Linked DNA regions of Homo sapiens: regions 1, 2, 3, 4 and 5 are each reported to be linked to region 6. Evidence: microRNA targets listed by miRTarBase, many of them from high-throughput screens and not tested one by one. Region 6 holds a microRNA gene; each other region holds the end of a gene's coding sequence.
What was found. The annotated mature microRNA hsa-miR-6074 reads GAUAUUCAGAGGCUAGGUGG and lies in region 6 at 1,313-1,332, opposite strand. An mRNA with a match to its seed (bases 2 to 7 or 8) in the 3' UTR can be bound and repressed. Matches are read on the target gene's strand: a 7mer-m8 pairs with bases 2 to 8, a 7mer-A1 pairs with bases 2 to 7 and ends in A, and an 8mer does both.

Region 1: the mRNA of SERTM1 is a reported target of hsa-miR-6074. Seed matches in the 3' UTR shown: 8mer at 669-676.
Region 2: miRTarBase lists ZSWIM6 as a target of hsa-miR-6074. Seed matches in the 3' UTR shown: 7mer-m8 at 1,263-1,269 and 7mer-A1 at 1,674-1,680.
Region 3: miRTarBase lists ZNF223 as a target of hsa-miR-6074. The part of its 3' UTR that is shown has no 7-base or 8-base seed match.
Region 4: miRTarBase lists DYNLT1 as a target of hsa-miR-6074. Seed matches in the 3' UTR shown: 7mer-m8 at 468-474.
Region 5: the mRNA of ROBO4 is a reported target of hsa-miR-6074. Seed matches in the 3' UTR shown: 7mer-A1 at 1,126-1,132.

Annotation. Positions count from the first base shown.
Region 1 is chr13:36,694,832-36,697,937 of GRCh38, reverse strand. SERTM1 (serine rich and transmembrane domain containing 1) reads right to left here. Exons shown (of 2, transcript NM_203451.3): 2 at 99-3,032. The coding sequence starts at 2,859. The coding sequence ends at 2,536. All of the region lies in intron 6 of LOC102723490 (a long non-coding RNA gene), which reads left to right. Among named protein-coding and RNA genes, the nearest start is that of SERTM1, 22 kb to the right of the region's middle.
Region 2 is chr5:61,543,724-61,546,829 of GRCh38, forward strand. It overlaps ZSWIM6 (zinc finger SWIM-type containing 6), which reads left to right. Exons shown (of 14, transcript NM_020928.2): 14 at 1-2,449. The coding sequence ends at 594. Among named protein-coding and RNA genes, the nearest start is that of LINC03122, 93 kb to the right of the region's middle.
Region 3 is chr19:44,066,739-44,069,844 of GRCh38, forward strand. It overlaps ZNF223 (zinc finger protein 223), which reads left to right. Exons shown (of 5, transcript NM_013361.6): 5 at 1-1,261. The coding sequence ends at 539. Among named protein-coding and RNA genes, the nearest start is that of ZNF284, 3.9 kb to the right of the region's middle.
Region 4 is chr6:158,633,968-158,637,073 of GRCh38, reverse strand. DYNLT1 (dynein light chain Tctex-type 1) reads left to right here. Exons shown (of 5, transcript NM_006519.4): 5 at 177-600. The coding sequence ends at 247. TMEM181 (transmembrane protein 181) reads right to left here. Exons shown (of 17, transcript NM_001376852.1): 17 at 1,645-3,106. Among named protein-coding and RNA genes, the nearest start is that of DYNLT1, 9.2 kb to the left of the region's middle.
Region 5 is chr11:124,882,087-124,885,172 of GRCh38, reverse strand. ROBO4 (roundabout guidance receptor 4) reads left to right here. Exons shown (of 18, transcript NM_019055.6): 17 at 1-132; 18 at 260-1,482. The coding sequence ends at 282. Among named protein-coding and RNA genes, the nearest start is that of ROBO4, 14 kb to the left of the region's middle. RefSeq lists a silencer at 2,106-2,400.
Region 6 is chr12:66,022,338-66,025,443 of GRCh38, forward strand. It overlaps MIR6074 (microRNA 6074), which reads right to left and starts at 1,389; the gene lies at 1,283-1,389.

The sequences.
Region 1 (3,106 bases), not on the chromosome of region 6:
CTGTGTGTGTGTGGTGTATGCTTAAAACTCTTAGGAAAAGCTTCTTCTCTAGAAGAGATTATAAATCACCTCACTGGAAAAGAATCAAAGAACCAGGCTTTCAATGGACTCCACTTCTTTATTTATAAACCCATCTTCCAACCTTTCTGAACTTCTTAAACAACATGAATTCATCTCAAGTTGTACAATCTGTTACCTTGGCAAGCTTCTAATGACAAATCTTATTTTCCATCTTTGAATGTGGCTCTTAATTTCTCTACTAAACATTGAGAGCAAGAACCATTGCGGCAGGGGAGGAATGGGAGTGTGCTTGTGGATTTGATTTGATTTGATTTTTAAAGTAGTTTTGCTGTCAGAATTCTTTATATCTCTTTCACATGGAAAGGATATAAAGATACCCTGAGGACAGATCATACTCAGATTGTTCTGTTGTGTGGCAAATTTGTCCTTTTATTTAAAAAAAAATCACTTCATCCATGTCCTTGTTTCTCTCTATAACAAAAACAGCATAGGATTAGTCAAAGAGCAAAAGTGATAATATAGATGCCTCTGTAATCCTGTGTAGCTTTCACACGACTTTTAATTGGGAGTATGTGAGTTTATATATATATATATATATATATATTTATGTGTGTGTGTGTGTGTGCGTATATATATGTATATATACATATATTCAGAGAATGCTAATAATGCTCTAAAATAGCAGTTTATCTAGTCCAGTTTTTATACTACATAATGACACCCAACCCACTGCCATGCTTTAAATGGAAGCAGAGGTAAATTTTTCACTAATTATACATTTTAGGGCAGCAACTCTGTGCTGGTCTTATGGTGTTTGGGGACGTTTTTGATATATAAATAGTTAAATGTGTTCTGATTTAAGTGAGGCTTATGAATTAAAAGAAGAAGAAGACTTCTGATTTTCATTCCCAGACCTCCACTCACTCAGCATTTTAGTATGATAAAGATAAACCCTGTACAAATAGTGGATTCTTTCCCCCATTCTAATCACTGGAGAGTGCTGACTGCACAATCTAACCAAACGGTGTGTTGAAGCCCCACTGCTTAAGATGATTAAATGTTTTGAACAAGGAATGATTCAGTTGCCATGGGAAGACCGTGGCGTGTTGATGCAGTGGCCTCCTGTAGGTTGAATAAGTTCAGTGTTTACCCTGTGGGCCATTTATTTTCAAAATTAAATTAAAATTCTTACTCTTAAGGAGCTGCAGTTTGATTGTTTTGTTTTTAGGGGCAGCTTGAGTTCCTCCACATTCCATGTCTGAGCTCACATGTGTGCCTAATTTCACAGACAGCCCCTGCCACCCGCCCGCCGAGTTCAGACATACTCTGCTGCCTGCAGCACGGCAGCTCCTAGGATCCCTAAAGCTCCCAGCAGCTACACAACTTGAGTGCCTACAATTTTTAATACAAACTCACATCCTGAAATCCTAATGTAGAGTATTATGTTAACATACAACAACTAATTATCAGAGACGCAACATTCGTGGAGTATATAATAACACATATATTTGCAATTTAGTTTCTAAGTTTTACAACCTAATGTGAGTGAACAAATATCAGACATCTTGGAGGCTTAATATAATTCTGCACTAAAATTATAAAGACTATGAAACCGAATAAAGGAACTTACACGACAGCTAAGAGTTATTACTGTATAAAATACAACTAAATGAATATTTTCCATATGCTTAATTCTCACTGATAGAAATTATTCATATAAAAACTTCTTGGCATCTCTTCTGGTGCTTCTCTTAGTACTAGTAACAGCAATTAATCACAAAAATTCCACAACTTTGTGGCATTATGACTAAAACATAAGCAGAAAAACAAAATAAAACTCCAGGAGGCAGAAATACATCACAAGCTCCATCATAATACATGTTTGTCTTGCTATTAAAATGTAAACTCTTCCAAAACTTTCCCAAATGACTTACATTCATCAATAAGTGTGATTTTTACTTGTTAAAGTGAAGTTAAAGAAAATATTTAGCATATATTTACCCTCAGTTTTAGAAATGTCATACATTAAATCTAAATTGACTCTCTTCCTTTTTAAGTTTGGTGTCTCCACTTTATCTTTTAAATATGGAAAATAACTTCTACATAGGTCAGACTTGATTTTGCCAGTTTCTGCAGGCTCAGTTGATTTCACGGCTTTGTAAAAGAAATGAAGTGCGAGTCCATGTCCAGCATCCACGGAGAGGCCACCTCAGATGAGCCTACGGCGTCCAACAAAGTAGAATGAACTGACTTACCTGAAGAAGCCCAGTCTAGATTCATCAAGCCATTTGTGTGAAATTCTGCACCTTGGGGTTTGCACACATTTCCACCAACATCGGTGTCTCCATCCCCAAATGAAAAGCATCATGAACAGAAAAGAAATCAGAGAAAAAGGAGAAGGAGAAGCAGGTCTACACCAAAAGGATCATTTCTTTCATGAGGCAATGCCTCACGGGACACTTCCGTAAGGGGATGTCAAAACTGCTGCCACACTCAAGGACTCTTCCATTTTCCTCAGGATGAAAGGTTTGAAAAAGTGGACCTCTGAGAGGAAATGCTGCAGACTTCCAAATTGGTGAAAGAACTTCCAGCGTCGCTTGGATACTCTGGGTAGGAGGAACTGGAGGAGATGATATTTTTGAGCCTCTGGAGGGCAATGATTAAAAGCAGAAGCAGAAACGCTAAAAGGCTGAGGAATATGGACACATAGATGTAGACGTTTGACAGGTGGCCTGAGGATGGGTCCACTGACGTGGACAGGGATGTGGGAAACAGCTCAAGAAAAGTTCCATTCTCCACACTTCCCGAAAATCCTGAGGAAGTGTCAGGTTCAGACATCTTTATGGAGGGTGAAGGAGTGATCTGGTAGATTAAAGTCAAAACTTCACACAGGGCTTACACAGGACAGATTGGCATTTTTTCACGATCGTGTTTGCAGAATTCACAGGCTGTTAAATCAGCACAACAAAACTTGTTTCTCAAAGGCAGCAGGTATCAGATGTGCATTGAGACTGAAAAAAAAAAGCAAGTCAGTGCATTCTTCAGAAAAATCACATTTAAATTCCATTTTTAGGTTTTATTTCAG
Region 2 (3,106 bases), not on the chromosome of region 6:
GACGCTGCTACGACTGGCATGAGCTATACACAGCTCTTTACAATAGCACGGTACATGGAGCACCGCGGGTACCCCATGAGGGCCTACAAGCTGGCCACCCTGGCCATGACCCATCTCAACCTGAGCTACAATCAGGACACACACCCTGCCATTAATGATGTTTTGTGGGCCTGTGCGCTTAGCCACTCCCTTGGTAAAAATGAGCTTGCAGCTATAATACCTCTGGTGGTCAAGAGTGTCAAGTGTGCAACGGTACTGTCAGACATTTTGCGCAGATGCACTCTGACCACTCCTGGCATGGTGGGACTTCATGGGAGGAGGAACTCTGGTAAGCTCATGTCACTGGACAAAGCCCCCTTGAGGCAACTCTTGGATGCCACGATCGGGGCCTACATCAACACAACGCACTCACGGCTCACACACATCAGTCCTCGGCACTATAGTGAGTTTATAGAGTTCCTCAGCAAAGCCCGAGAGACCTTCTTAATGGCGCATGATGGACACATTCAGTTTACACAGTTTATTGACAACCTGAAACAAATCTACAAAGGCAAAAAGAAACTGATGATGTTGGTTCGGGAGAGGTTTGGTTGATAGATCTTGTATGAATGGGGTGGGGGGTGGGGATGGGAGGGATGGTTTGTTTTTACTTGAGCCTGCCTTTGTACCCTTTTTAACTTAAAGAACAGAGCCACACCGGTATTATATGTGTATAGTTATATTGCGTTTGCAGACTAAATTGTCATGTTGTGAAAGTTTGTGTGTTTTTTATTTTTTCCCTATTTCTTTCTTTCCTTTATTTTATTATTTTTTTTAATTTTTTTTTTCTGGTTTTGTATGAGAGAGAGGTTAAAAAGGTTTGGTTTACACTGAGTATATGTTGTCAAGTGGCAAAAGTCCACATAGCTCTCCTGTTTTCTGTATACGTTCACAGCCTCAAAAAAAATAATTGAAATGGCTTTAAAAACCAAACAAAACACCTCCATCCTGTGATAAGTACCTCGAATGGATTCAGCTTTACTCCTTTGTAACTCATCTTTACATTTTCAGCATATTTAAACAAACCAACAAAATGAAATACTAATAGTAAAAAGGCTGACCCATGTGGCTTTGCAGTGCTGTTCGTCCAGAAGCATGGCACACGATGCTTGTGCATGTGGAAACTTAGCGACTGTCAACATACATTCTCAGGGATTTATCCAAAAAAATTAAAAAAAGAATGAGAGCATTTATTGTACTGTATATATATTATAGTATATGTCTGAATATTGAAAATATAACATTAACTAATTTATAAAAAATATTCTATGTAATGCAAAATACTTGAAGCTGCAGTAGCTTGGTTTTAAACAAAAACAAAAAAAAAACTGAGAGAAAACCTATCAGAAGGACTAAAAGTACGCCTTGCTTCAGGGTTGGCTCAGGTGGTGAACTTCATGCTGGGCATCTATGCAGAGCCACCTTTTGGATTGCATGGTTGGACTGAGATCTATTGGGAGAAATTATATATGTATATATATTTATACAACTTATGTATACATATATATATGTATACACACAGACACACACACACACCACCAACAACCACCACTACACCACACATGCTTATAACAGGCACTAGAATAAAGAGGGACAACAAAATACACAGCCAGAGCAGCAAGCCTTAGCATTAAGAATATACAATATGCCGGAATTGGGGTTCGTGCCTCCTAGCCTAGGAAACTTAAAAGAAATATCCTTTTGACACAAAACACAAAATGTTTTCCAAAACAATTGACATAATGATACATTACGCCTTTGCAGTGAGCTAATAATAAGCTAACCTTTGTGCACAAATAACATTATATATATTATATATCTATTCTGCATAGGTATTTTGACTTTGTGCAGGACAGAAAGTTGTGTAGGTATGACTGTTCTACTTTTCAGTTTTCTTTTTTTTTAATATATTTTATTTTCTCTAGAAATTACTCAAACAAAAGCAGCCTTCTATCTTGCCTTGTCTTAATGCTTTAAAATAACCAAACTGGAGATCTAACTACCAAACTGTTCATTATATTATTAAATACCAACTTTGGTTACAGTATAGTGTCTTTACTTTAGCTGATGGTTCTGTAACCTTGTGCTTTTTAAAGCAATTTTTATGTTTTGGTGCAAAAGTTGTCCAGTGTCTCTTGTTCCCTTCACTAGAGAACATGCTTAGAGGTATGTTTGTAGGTATTTTTGTTTAGAAGAACTATTTCATGCGCTCCATTTTATTTATTATAATAGGTAAAAAGAAAAAAAAAGGTTGTAATTCATCACCCATGTAAACATGCTCATGAAGTTGAAAGTAATTAAGATTTGATACACTGATATCAATTTATTTATGTAACTAAATCACTGTTTTATAAACTTGTTAATGATCAACAATTTTTGTTTTGATTAAAATTAGTTTTTTGAAAGTTGATTCTGCCTCCTTTATGGTATATCTCTTATTGCACCTGAATTTGGTGATTATAGACTTGGGTAGTACTACGCCTCCAAGTGTCTAATACTATATTGACTCATCCAGTAAACGTTTATGTGCTATTTTCCAGGCACTGTGCTAGGCCCTGGAAATGTAATGGTGAACAAAATCAGACCCTGGACCTCACTGTCTGCTTAATGGAGAAGGCAGACATAAGCCAAATAATCACAAAGATAAAATATGAAACAGAATAGTCTGTTTTCTGTCTGAACCCTTGGTCGTTCCTCTAATAAGCTATAATTTAGGATGCTCAGTACTTAATATATTTAATAAAGGCTGAGTTTGTGAGATTTTCTTGTGTGTGTGGTTTAAAAGGAAGTTACATTATAAAGGGCAGATGCTACATGCACACCATAGTCACTTGTATCCAGTATTTCCATCAAGGATCTGTACCCAAAATGATGCAAATAGTTTTTGCGTGTATGTGGTTAAAAACAACATCACATAATTTACCATCTTAGGCATTTTGAAGTGTACAGTTCAGCAGTGTTAAAAATATTTACAAAGTTGTAAAACAGATCTCCAGAATTTTCTCATCTTGCAGAACTGAACTCTATATGCCCATTATGTGACTGCCCTTTTTCTCCTCCCTCCAGC
Region 3 (3,106 bases), not on the chromosome of region 6:
ATAGGCATTGTGTGGTCCACACAGGAAAGAAACCAAACAGCACTGGGGAATATGGAAAAGGCTTCATTCGTAGGCTGGATTTGTGTAAGCATCAGACGATCCACACAGGAGAGAAACCATATAATTGTAAAGAATGTGGGAAGAGCTTCAGACGGTCCTCCTATCTTTTGATCCATCAGCGAGTCCACACTGGAGAAAAGCCATACAAATGTGACAAGTGTGGGAAGAGCTACATTACTAAGTCAGGTCTTGACTTGCACCATAGAGCCCACACAGGAGAGAGACCTTATAACTGTGATGACTGTGGGAAGAGCTTTAGACAGGCCTCAAGTATTTTGAATCATAAGAGACTCCATTGCCGAAAAAAACCATTCAAATGTGAGGATTGTGGAAAGAAGCTTGTATACCGGTCATACCGTAAAGACCAACAAAAAAACCACAGTGGAGAAAATCCATCCAAATGTGAAGACTGTGGGAAGCGCTACAAGAGGCGCTTGAATCTTGATATAATTTTATCATTATTTTTAAATGACACGTAAGTGTTGTACATATTTATGGGGTACAGTGTGATATTTAAATATATGTATATGATGTATAATGATCAAATCAGTGTAATTAGCACATTTATCACCTCAATTATCTCTTTTTTGTGTTGAGAAAATTAAAAATTCATTGTTCCAGCAGTTTGAAAATAAATTGTTGTCGATGATAGTCACCTTTAGTGCTGCAGAACAGCAGAACTTCTTCCTCTTATCTACCTGTACTTTTGCATCCATTAGCCAACCTTTGGCCATCCCACCTATCCCTTACCCTTCCCTGCCTCTAGAGCCACTGTTCTCACTACTTCTAAGAAATCAGCTTTTTAAGCTTCCCCATGTGATTGAGGACAGTTTGAAGTTAGTGTTTCAGCCATAGCTCAGCATACCCCAGTGGTCGTGGGACTGTCAGAGCAGAGAATGCTGCAGGGTTTCTAACAGAAGTTTGACAATTAGTTATTATTCAGGAGACAGGTCTTAGTATAAGAGTTTGTTCACACACTTTCAAAACACTAATGATGAACATGTCAAAATTGATGACCACTAGAATGTCAGCCACATGTGTCTTTGTATTTTTGCTGCATCCTTACATTGCTTGAGTCTGGAAGATTGAGGCTGCACTGACCTATGGTAGTGCTACTGCACTCCAGCCAGGGCAACAGAGTGAGACCCTGTCTCCAAAAAAAAAAATTAAATAAATACCTTTCTTTGTTTCTAGACAAGCATCTCTCTGTGTTTCTGGAATTTTTTTTTTGAGTGTACATACATAGTGTGTTACAATTATATTCTTATTTTCTTCAGCAGTGAATATTTGCTGGTATTTTTCTATTTTATAATTGTATGCATTATTTTTAGATTTCTCAGTGAACATCAGAAACCCCATCTCTACAAGAAATACAATAATTAGCCAGTTGTGTTGGTGTATGTCTGTAGTCCCAGCTGGAGACTACTGGAGAGGCTGAAGTGGGAGGATCGCTTCAACCCAGGAGGCAGATATATATACAAATGGAATAGAAGTGAGAGTCCATAAAGAAACCCATACATCTAAGGCCACTTGATTTTCAAGAAGGATCCAAGATTACTTTATGGAGACAGAATAGTCTCTTCGACCAATACTGCTGGGACACCTATACACAGACACACAACATAATGAAGTTAGATTGTACCTCACCCTACACTTAAAAGTTAACTCAAAATTCATCAGTGACCTAATGTAACAGCTAAACTATAAAAGTATTAGAAGAAAACATAGAAGTAAATCTTCCTGACTTTATTTGGAATGGATTCTTCAATGAAACAACATAAGCAAAAGCAAATATAAATACCTAAATGGGACCTAGGTTTTAAAAAATGCTGTGCATACATGGACATTGTCATGAACATGAAAAGACCATACAGCATGAGTTCTACTATCCAGATTATATAAAGAATTCTTACAACTCAATAACAGAAACCACTCAATTAAAAAAATGGGCAAAGGGCTGGGTGCAGTGTCATGCCTGTAATTCCAGCACTTTGGGAGGCTGAGGTGGGCAGTTTACTTGAGGCCAGGAGTTCAAGACCAGCCTGGCCAACATGGTGAAAGTCTGTCTTTACTAAAAATACAACTAGCTGGATGTGGTGGCCTCCTGGGCTCAAACCATCCTTCCACCTCAGCCTCTTGAGCAGCTGAGACTACAGGCGTGCACCACAGCCTCTGGTTAAGTTTTGTATTTTTTTATAGAGATGAGGTTCCTCCATGTTGCCCAGGCTGGTCTCGAACTACTGCACTCAAGTAATCTGCCCACCTCAGCCTCCCAAAGTGCTGGGATTACAGGCATGAGCCACTGCACTCAGCCTAAAAAAAAAAAATCCTAATTTTTATGGGTACACATATGGAGTATATATGTTGATACAGGCATACAATGCATAATAATCATATCAGGGTAAATGGGGTATCTGTTACCACAAGCATTTATCAGATTTTTGTGTGTGTTAGAAACAATCCGTACTCGTTTAGTTATTTCAAATGTACAATAAATTATTATTGACTGTAACTCTGTTGTGCTATCAAATACCAGATCTTATTCATTCTATCTAAGCATAGTTTTGTACCCACTAACCATCCCCACTTCCCTCACCACCAACCTTAACTTTCCCTCCCTCTGGTAACCAACATTCTGCTCTCTGTCTCCATGCATTCAATTGTTTTAATTTTTAGCTCCTACAAATAAGTGAGAAGATGTGAAGTTTGTCTTTCTGTGCCTGACTTATTTCACTGAATGTAATGTCCTTCCAATTCCATCCATATTGTTGCAAATAACAAAATCTCATTCTTTTTGTGGCTGAATAGTACTCCATTGTGTATATGTCCATTTCCTGTATCCATTCACCTGTTGATGCATACTTAGGTTGCTTCCAAATTTTGGTTATTGTGAATAGTGCTGCAATAAACATTGCAGGGGAGGGTGCAGATATCACTTTGATATAGTTTTAATTTTTTGAGGAACCTCCATACTGTTCTCCGCAGTGGTTCTACTAATTTACATTCCCACCAACAATGTGCGAGGATTCCCTCCTTCACTCCTTCC
Region 4 (3,106 bases), not on the chromosome of region 6:
AGTTTCCTATCTTTGAATGCAATGCATGTTTATCACCTTTTAAAACATTTAATAATAGACTTGCCAAGGTTCTTTGTGTAGCATAGAGATGGGTACTTGAATGTTGGCCTTATTGTGAGTAAAACGTCGTCCCCCAGCTTTCCCTGCCGTAAATGCTGCTCTCTTCCCTCCCGCAGGGAGCTGCACTGTGCGATGGGAGAATAAGACCATGTACTGCATCGTCAGTGCCTTCGGACTGTCTATTTGACCTGCAGTCCAGCCTATGGCCTTTCTCCTTTTGTCTCTAGTTCATCCTCTAACCACCAGCCATGAATTCAGTGAACTCTTTTCTCATTCTCTTTGTTTTGTGGCACTTTCACAATGTAGAGGAAAAAACCAAATGACCGCACTGTGATGTGAATGGCACCGAAGTCAGATGAGTATCCCTGTAGGTCACCTGCAGCCTGCGTTGCCACTTGTCTTAACTCTGAATATTTCATTTCAAAGGTGCTAAAATCTGAAATCTGCTAGTGTGAAACTTGCTCTACTCTCTGAAATGATTCAAATACACTAATTTTCCATACTTTATACTTTTGTTAGAATAAATTATTCAAATCTAAAGTCTGTTGTGTTCTTCATAGTCTGCATAGTATCATAAACGATTTCTTCATAGTGAGTGGCTACAGAATCTATACAACCAGACCAGGCGCAGTGGCTCACACCTGTAATCCCACCACTTTGGGAGGCTGAGGCAGGCGGATCATGAGGTCAGGAGATCAAGACCATCCTGTCTAACACGGTGAAACCCCGTCTCTACTAAAAATACCAAAAATTAGCCAGGTGTGGTGGCGGGCGCCTGTAGTCCCAGCTACTCGGGAGGCTGAGGCAGGAGAGTGGCATGAACCCAGGAGGCAGAGGTTGTAGTGAGCCAAGATCGTGAGCCAAGTTCCCGCCACTGCACTCCAGCCTGGGTGACAAGAGCAAGAGTCCGCCTCAAAAAAAAAAAAAAAAAAAAAAAAAAAAAATATATATATATATATATACAACCAAAAAAAAAAAAGTTCTGCTGTGGTCCTCTCCATGATGTACTCATTTTACCCGTGGGACCAGGATCCTGACGGCTCTGCTGGGTTCTGGTTAGATTCCTACCCCTCGGCATCACACCTCCCATTCTTAAGCCCTCCTCTTCTAGAGGTGAAGGGGTGGGAGGTGGGCAAACCAATTTCTATTCTCTTAGCCAGAGAGCTCTAACTCACACTTGGCCCAAAGCTGTAACACCTTAACTGTTAATCCTGTGTTCTCTGTAGGGCTCACAAATTGTCTTAGTACTTCAGAGCTTACAAAATGGTTTTCACAATCATTCATTCTGTGTCTTCAACAATTTGCAGTCATTTAAAAATCTCAGAAAATGTGTTTGGAGGTTATCTGATTGGTTTAAAGTCACACATCCAAGTTGGGAGCTGGGCCCAAACCCACGCCTTGTCTCCATCTTGAGTGCTCTTCCCCAGGCCACATTAGACATGGCAATAAAGATACCTCCGTGCCTGCCTGCTGAAATGGAAAAGCCCTGCCGTTGTCTCCAAAGCCGCTTTATTAAAGCATTTATGTCTGCAAGGCCAAATTAACTCCACACACAAAGAGCAAACAAATCAAGACACATAGAAGTGAATATTAAAAATTTATTAACATTTCCCAGAAAGGTAGTGTCAGAATTAAGCCATTCGCAAAAGACGAATTTGCCATAAACAAACATTCACTTTTGCCTGATGACAGCAACACTGTGATGGGGTGGCACTGTGCCCCACGGACAGGTCCACAACTGAACACATGGCTCTATCTCTCCTTTTGGGCTTAAAGTTTAGTGTTATTTTATTTTACAAATATTTACAGTCATTTTGTAAAAAGGCAGTTTTTAGTAGCAGAAAATTCTTCTGTTTTATAGTATGGTATCACAGTTACTAGCGTATCTCCAATGTCAAACCAAGATAAACAGCATCACAAGATGTCACAGACTAATACAACTTCCCTTTGGCCAGGGGAAAAGATCTGTATCTTTTTTTTTTTTTCTTCAAAAGTCTAACCTCTAAGGCAACCGGTTTCTAAAACCCTCAAAATACACAAATACACTTTCATGTTTTAAGTCTCATCTTCACTAAATGTTCAGACACATCCGTTTTAATTATCCCTTTTATGAGGGTCTGTGTTTTTCCTGTGATAAAGGATTCAGGAAATAATTTACCACATTATAATCTATTTAACATAACTACCCTCAGTAAATAGTTCATAAAATACTTGAGGCTGGTGACATTTGTCTTGTAACCTGCTCATTTAGTGGGTTGGGTTTACAAAATGTATCTAAGCTTTTATTGCAATCTGCAATTATGTACATTAACAACCTTACAAACCTTGAACATAGTATATATATCCCCTTCTCTAGCCTTTCAAATGGGGCTTAAGAGAGAGAAAATGGCACCACTTCACTGCTATAATGATTTAATAATAAATCAAGCAGACTTATCATCCACATGGATAACGAAGCTCTCCCTAGGGAAACTGAAATACCTCTGGTCATCTTCCAGGTTCTCCTAGACTGGACCAGTATTTAAAAAATCCCAAAGATGATGTTACTCAAGCCATTACCATGAAGGAACTAAAGTCAGCCCTTTAAGTTCGCAAAACTTTAACATAACTACCCTCAGTAAATAATTTATTTTTTCTTCAACAATTTTCTTGCTACTGTCAAAAGTTTCTGGCAGACTTTAGTGTTTTAACCTGATACCTATGGTACATATTCTACATGCCAAGTGCTAGAGAGTTTAAGCAAAATTTTACATGGGGTATGTAATATGTCGGTATTTATGATATACCAGGGAAGACAAGTTGAAAATACATGACTTAGTAAGAACGATTTTCCCCTTAAGTACTTTCTAACTTTTTTTCTTATTTCCCACTTAGTTACAAAAAGTAAATAAATAATCCTATATTTTTCATTTCATTGATGCATGAAGACTCAATGTATGAAGATAATAGTCATCAGTTTATAATTACACTATAGGACAAAGTTTTAAAAAGTTCTAGTGTGTGTATGGCTAAATGCCTCAAATATTTTACATTTACTGATAAATAA
Region 5 (3,086 bases), not on the chromosome of region 6:
GGCCAGACTGGTTGGAAGACATGGAGGTCAGCCACACCCAGCGGCTGGGAAGGGGGATGCCTCCCTGGCCCCCTGACTCTCAGATCTCTTCCCAGAGAAGTCAGCTCCACTGTCGTATGCCCAAGGCTGGTGGTGAGTGTCTGTCTTCCTGGCTAATGTGTTCATCTTGACCAGAGGGCCTCTGGGAAGAAGCCAGGAGGAAGCCTGGCACTGGGGAAGGGAGATAAGGAGCAAGGGAGATAACTCCACTGTCCTTCAGCTTCTCCTGTAGATTACTCCTGAACCGTGTCCCTGAGACTTCCCAGACGGGAATCAGAACCACTTCTCCTGTCCACCCACAAGACCTGGGCTGTGGTGTGTGGGTCTTGGCCTGTGTTTCTCTGCAGCTGGGGTCCACCTTCCCAAGCCTCCAGAGAGTTCTCCCTCCACGATTGTGAAAACAAATGAAAACAAAATTAGAGCAAAGCTGACCTGGAGCCCTCAGGGAGCAAAACATCATCTCCACCTGACTCCTAGCCACTGCTTTCTCCTCTGTGCCATCCACTCCCACCACCAGGTTGTTTTGGCCTGAGGAGCAGCCCTGCCTGCTGCTCTTCCCCCACCATTTGGATCACAGGAAGTGGAGGAGCCAGAGGTGCCTTTGTGGAGGACAGCAGTGGCTGCTGGGAGAGGGCTGTGGAGGAAGGAGCTTCTCGGAGCCCCCTCTCAGCCTTACCTGGGCCCCTCCTCTAGAGAAGAGCTCAACTCTCTCCCAACCTCACCATGGAAAGAAAATAATTATGAATGCCACTGAGGCACTGAGGCCCTACCTCATGCCAAACAAAGGGTTCAAGGCTGGGTCTAGCGAGGATGCTGAAGGAAGGGAGGTATGAGACCGTAGGTCAAAAGCACCATCCTCGTACTGTTGTCACTATGAGCTTAAGAAATTTGATACCATAAAATGGTAAAGACTTGAGTTCTGTGAGATCATTCCCCGGAGCACCATTTTTAGGGGAGCACCTGGAGAGATGGCAAGAATTTCCTGAGTTAGGCAGGGATCAGGCATTCATTGACACTCAGGGAGTGTCACACATTTCTGTTCTGCAATTAAAGGGAGAATGAGGTTCATCCACCAAATTTTAAGCAGAATATAGGAAGGGCAGGGGTGGGGAGTTTCAGGGTCTGCTGGTCCTGGCAACTTATATTAAATCCACCTCCTCAAGATAAGCCTTAGGGATATTTATGGCTGAGGGAAGTGGGATGGTCTAAGGCATGGGGAAGGGTGATTGGCTGTGGGGAAAATGAAGTAATAGGTTCATTCTGCCCAAGTGTACTTGGGGTTCATGGCATTTCATAAGGACATTTGTGTAGAAAATTGTTTTGCTGGCTGGGCACGGTGGCTCACGCCTGTAATCCCAGCACTTTGGGAGGCGGAGGTAGGCAGATCATGAGGTCAGGAGATCGAGACCATCCTGGCTAACATGGTGAAACCCCGTCTCTACTAAAAAAAAAAAAAAAATACAAAAAATTAGCCAGGCGTGGTGGCGGGAGCCTGTAGTCCCAGCTACTCAGGAAGCTGAGGCAGGAGAATGGTGTGAACCCGGGAGGCGGAGCTTGCAGTGAGCCGAGATCGCCCACTGCACTCCAGCCTGGGTGAGAGAGAGAGACTCGGTCTCAAAAAAAAAAAAAGAAAAAAAAAAAAGAAAAGAAAATGGTTGTGTTATGATCTGAGGGTGGAGTTTTTGGCCCTCCGATGTCAAAAGGCCACCCCTCGAGCACTTGCAGAGGCCCAGTAGAAAAGTCGGTGGTCTCGATTGGTTTGAGCTGGACAAGAGCTGTCCCAAGTTCCTGAAAAATGACTGTAGCGCCCATTCTCATAGTGACCTATGAATGTTACCTATAAAGTAGCCAGTGAAGGTTGTTTCCACATTCAGCAGCGAGGCCTTCAGCTACCAAAGAAGCTTTGTGCTCCATGGAAAAAGGGAAAAAACAAAAAGCAAGCAGGGCAGGCAGACTTGATCAAATTAACCCCTTGATTTCACCCATCCTGAGGAGAAAACTGCTTTCAGCAGTCCCAGATGGTTTCTTAAAATAGACAAAGCAGCTGAACTCCAGAAAAGGTAGAACCACCTGTCACGGTTGGCTTAGGAACACCCTTCAAAGAAAAAAACAGAACAGAGAGATGAACCTCGAAGCAGGACTTCCAGGGCCTGAGCCACAGGAGGCACTGGAGGGTAGGCAGGCCTGCGTCTTCCTCCCTTGGCGGGAAAGGTCGGGGGCAGAATCCACAAGTTGGTGGAGGGGATGCTACAGAGCATGACAGGGCCACAGGAAGCAGAGCCTAAAAGGGGGTGCTCATCCCTCAAACCCAGCAGCTCTACTTGGAGGCCACTGGGAGTTGAGAGGCTGAATGAGGCAGGACCATGGGGACTGGGGGCTTCCTGAACCACATTAATCAGGACAGTCTGGGCCAGATTTTTGTGATCTCAGGAGGAAGAATCAGTATTCCACATACACATCTGTTCCTCTGTATTTGCTTTTCCTTATCTGGATTTTGTGGCAGTTGCGGGGAGGAGGTTGTTTTGGTTTCTTTTTAGCTTCCTGGTAAAATTCCTTTTGAAAACATCCCAACCCTGTTTGCCAGACTGAAAGGGAAAGAGAGATTTGTACACTCACAGGTCAAAGGGGCAGACGAGGTCAGGGCCTGGGACTGGAGGGCAGCTGCCAATCCCAGAGAGTCCAGGGAAGTCACTGAGTCAAGGGTGGAGCAAGCGAGAAGGAACAAAACCTCAGGTCACCAGTGAGCACACGGGATGCAGGGCAGGAGGTGACGAGGACCACGGCATTCACCACAAAAAAGTCTTAACAGTTCTGTGCCCATCAACCCAATCACATCTGGGCCCACCAAGAGCTGCCCATTTGTACATACCCTCTGTGACGGAGTCAGATGGTTTGAAAAAGCATGCTCTTCCTTCTTGCCTGGGGTTTCTCCCATAAGCTCCTCCTTTCTTTGAGTTTTTCAAAATAATTTTTTGTGAGGGGTGTATTTTCTTGTGGGAAAGTAGACAGACCCCAGAGGAGGGCACTAAAGAAGGGCCTGGCTTGAC
Region 6 (3,106 bases):
TCCTTCCCAGAGGTTGAAGGGTGGGGCTGAAGTCCCAACCCTCTAATCCTGCCTTGGTCTTTCCTGTGACCAGCCCTCATCCTGAAGCCATCTAAAGGTTGCCAGTCACCAGTAATCTCATTAGCATTCAAAAACACACTTATTACTTTGGAGATTCCAAGGACTTTAGAAGCTGAATGCCAGGAAACAAGGACCCAATATATATCCCATAAAATAACAGTTCACTCCCTATCCTCCAACACAGATCCCTTACATTAAAAAAATGTACAACTCAAATGGTACTGGCAAATTATTGGAATCCCATTTAATCTTTAATAATTAGTCCAGTCCACTCTTATGTCATGTGAATATGTCTCTCAGAGCAAGGCCACTCAGGTTTGCAGCCTTCTCATTCAATCTTGTCAGGGTCCAAGAGCAAGAGTAGTCTCAGCAAACATAGAGCTTTACCCTTTCTGGCATCTGGCATAGTTGAGCTGAAAGACAATGTCATCTCTTGCTCTGAGCCTCTTTGGAAGTGTTGATATAATATTGGATTTCTCTTATTACATACCATTTATTCATTACTTTTTTATATGACCTTATTTGAAGATATTATTCATTTCTTTAACCTCATATACTATTTCTCCTTCTCTTCATTTATACCTAAACTTTTCCGCCTTTGCTAACATAGCAGAAAATCTGACAGGACAAAAATACGTAGACACTACTCCTTTAGATGTTAATTTTAAGTAACTTTTCAATACTGCCCATTATCCTAATATTCCTTTCAGTAAATAAGCTTTGCTTATTCTGCTTGGCTCTGAGCATAATGTTCAGATTGGTTCAAATAAAAAAAGCCACCATATTTTTATCCTTGGGAATAAGAAAACAGAATTTCTTACATGGTAGAAAGGAAAAACGTCACTACAAAATGTAATTATAGCATTTTACAATATGCATCGCACAAACTGTATAAAACACACAAAGTACATCTACTAAAACTTTGTTCTAAAACAATTTTTTAAGTGAGCTAGTTTTCAATGCAGTCGAGATTACTGAGTTAAAAAAAAGATTGAGAAGGATTGAGAAGGAGCTTTGCATAAACAAAAACTCTATCTGCAAATAATTATTCCTTAATCCTAAGAGCTGGGGTAGCTTTCCTTTGTTTATTAGCTTTTTTTTTTGTTTTTTAATGGAAGTGATTTTCTTAGAGTAGAAAGTTTAGTATCAGAATTGGCTGTGTTGTATATATGGTAGTCACTTTTCAGATATTTTCCTGTCTGTTGGTTTAGGGGCTCTTTCTCCACACCCACCCTCAAGGCTACCTCTATCTCCACCTAGCCTCTGAATATCTCCACCAAAGAGCAAATCAGTTGACTGAAGGTGAGTAAAAATTCCATGGGGTTGGTAGTTAAAACTATTGACCAGGCTGGGCATGGTGGCTCATGCCTGTAATCCCAGCACTTTGGGAGGCTGAGGCGGGCAGATCACCTGAGGTCAGGAGTTTGAGACCAGCCTGGCCAATATGGTAAAACCCTGTATCTACTAAAAATACAAAAAATAACTAGCTGGGCATGGTGGCGGGTGCCTGTAGTCCCAGCTACTCAGGAGACTGAAGCAGGAGAATCACTTGAACCTGGGAGGCGGAGGTTGCAGTGAGCCGAGATCACGCCACCGCACTCCAGCCTGGGCAACAGAGCGAGACTCCATCTAACAATAATAACAATAAAGCTATTGACCAAAATTTTTATGCTCTGAGATTTCTCTGTGAATTTGCATGAACCCGGGAGCCTAGCCCATTAAACTGACTACCTGAATTATATGACTATCTACATCTTTTCAGAGGGTAGAGTGATTTCTTCCTCAATCTAATAAAATTTATATTACTATATCCTTAACCCATAAGTGGGTATGTTGAGTACAACTTTAAAATATTTTTTTACTTTGAGAGATTACATGTTTAGGTTTTAATGTGTTTCTTGTTTTGTTTATTGTTTAGGCAAAGTCAAAAAACTAACCTTATCGGTCTGGCATTTGTTTAAATTTTTATTTGCACAGCAAACATTATTCAGCGCTGTGTTAGTATTAAAATATGAGAAACACCAGGACAAAAATACGTAGACACTCCTCCGTTAGATGTTAATTTTAAGCAGCAGAAAAAGCCAAATTCTGCGTTCAGTATGCAGAGAAATAAGGAAAAGAAGTAACAGAAAGAGGTTAATGTGGGCTGAGACCACTTGAGGGCATTTGAGCACCTTTGCATTCCATGCTAATAAAGTGACAGAAGTTAGAAAGTTGGCCTATCTTTGAAGATCAACGTATATATATAGATATATGAATAGAGGAGATACATTTTATATCTGCTCCAGAACTCATTTTGGATTTTTTTCAACATCCTTCCGACAACATCCTTCCGAAAGAGATCAAAGTTGAAACTATTAGTAAATAATAAAATTAAGTCAATAGGTTATTAAATACCACATCCAAGTTATCAAAAATTGAAGTACAGAGTAAAAAAGGAAAAAGTATACTACATACAATGAGATTATATGAGTCTCCAGACCCCCATTTCTGCAAAAAGCTCATCAAATATTCATAAATCTAAGTAACTTCCCAGTAGGACATCTCCCAAACAAAGTGTAGGTGAACACAGAAAGCTGAAATACATAAAAACAGAATTTGGGTGTCTACTTTGACTGTCTGGAATTTGTTAGGAAGCAGAAATGCCACCAAAATGGAAATTGCACACAGGGAAAAAAATCCCACTGTGCTTTTATCCAGCTAGGTTGGAAATGATGTAATAAATGCACCATAATTTATGTACATAAATGTGTGGGTAACTCATCCAGGGAGTGGCAAGTGCAGAATTTTAGTGGAAAAAAATAGTGTACATCAAAGAAATTTGACCAGCGGCCAACAACCATTAATCTCTTCATGAACTCTTAAATATATAGATGCCAAATAAAACTTGTCATTTTATTCCATCTCTCAAAGCAATACATTCTTATTTATGAAGTTATGAGAGAACATAACATTATACCTTATTTGACATACAACACACACAGAGCATACAGCAACCTTGAGAAGATTTCCTTCATAAAAATGAGAACATTGATAAATCAACAGC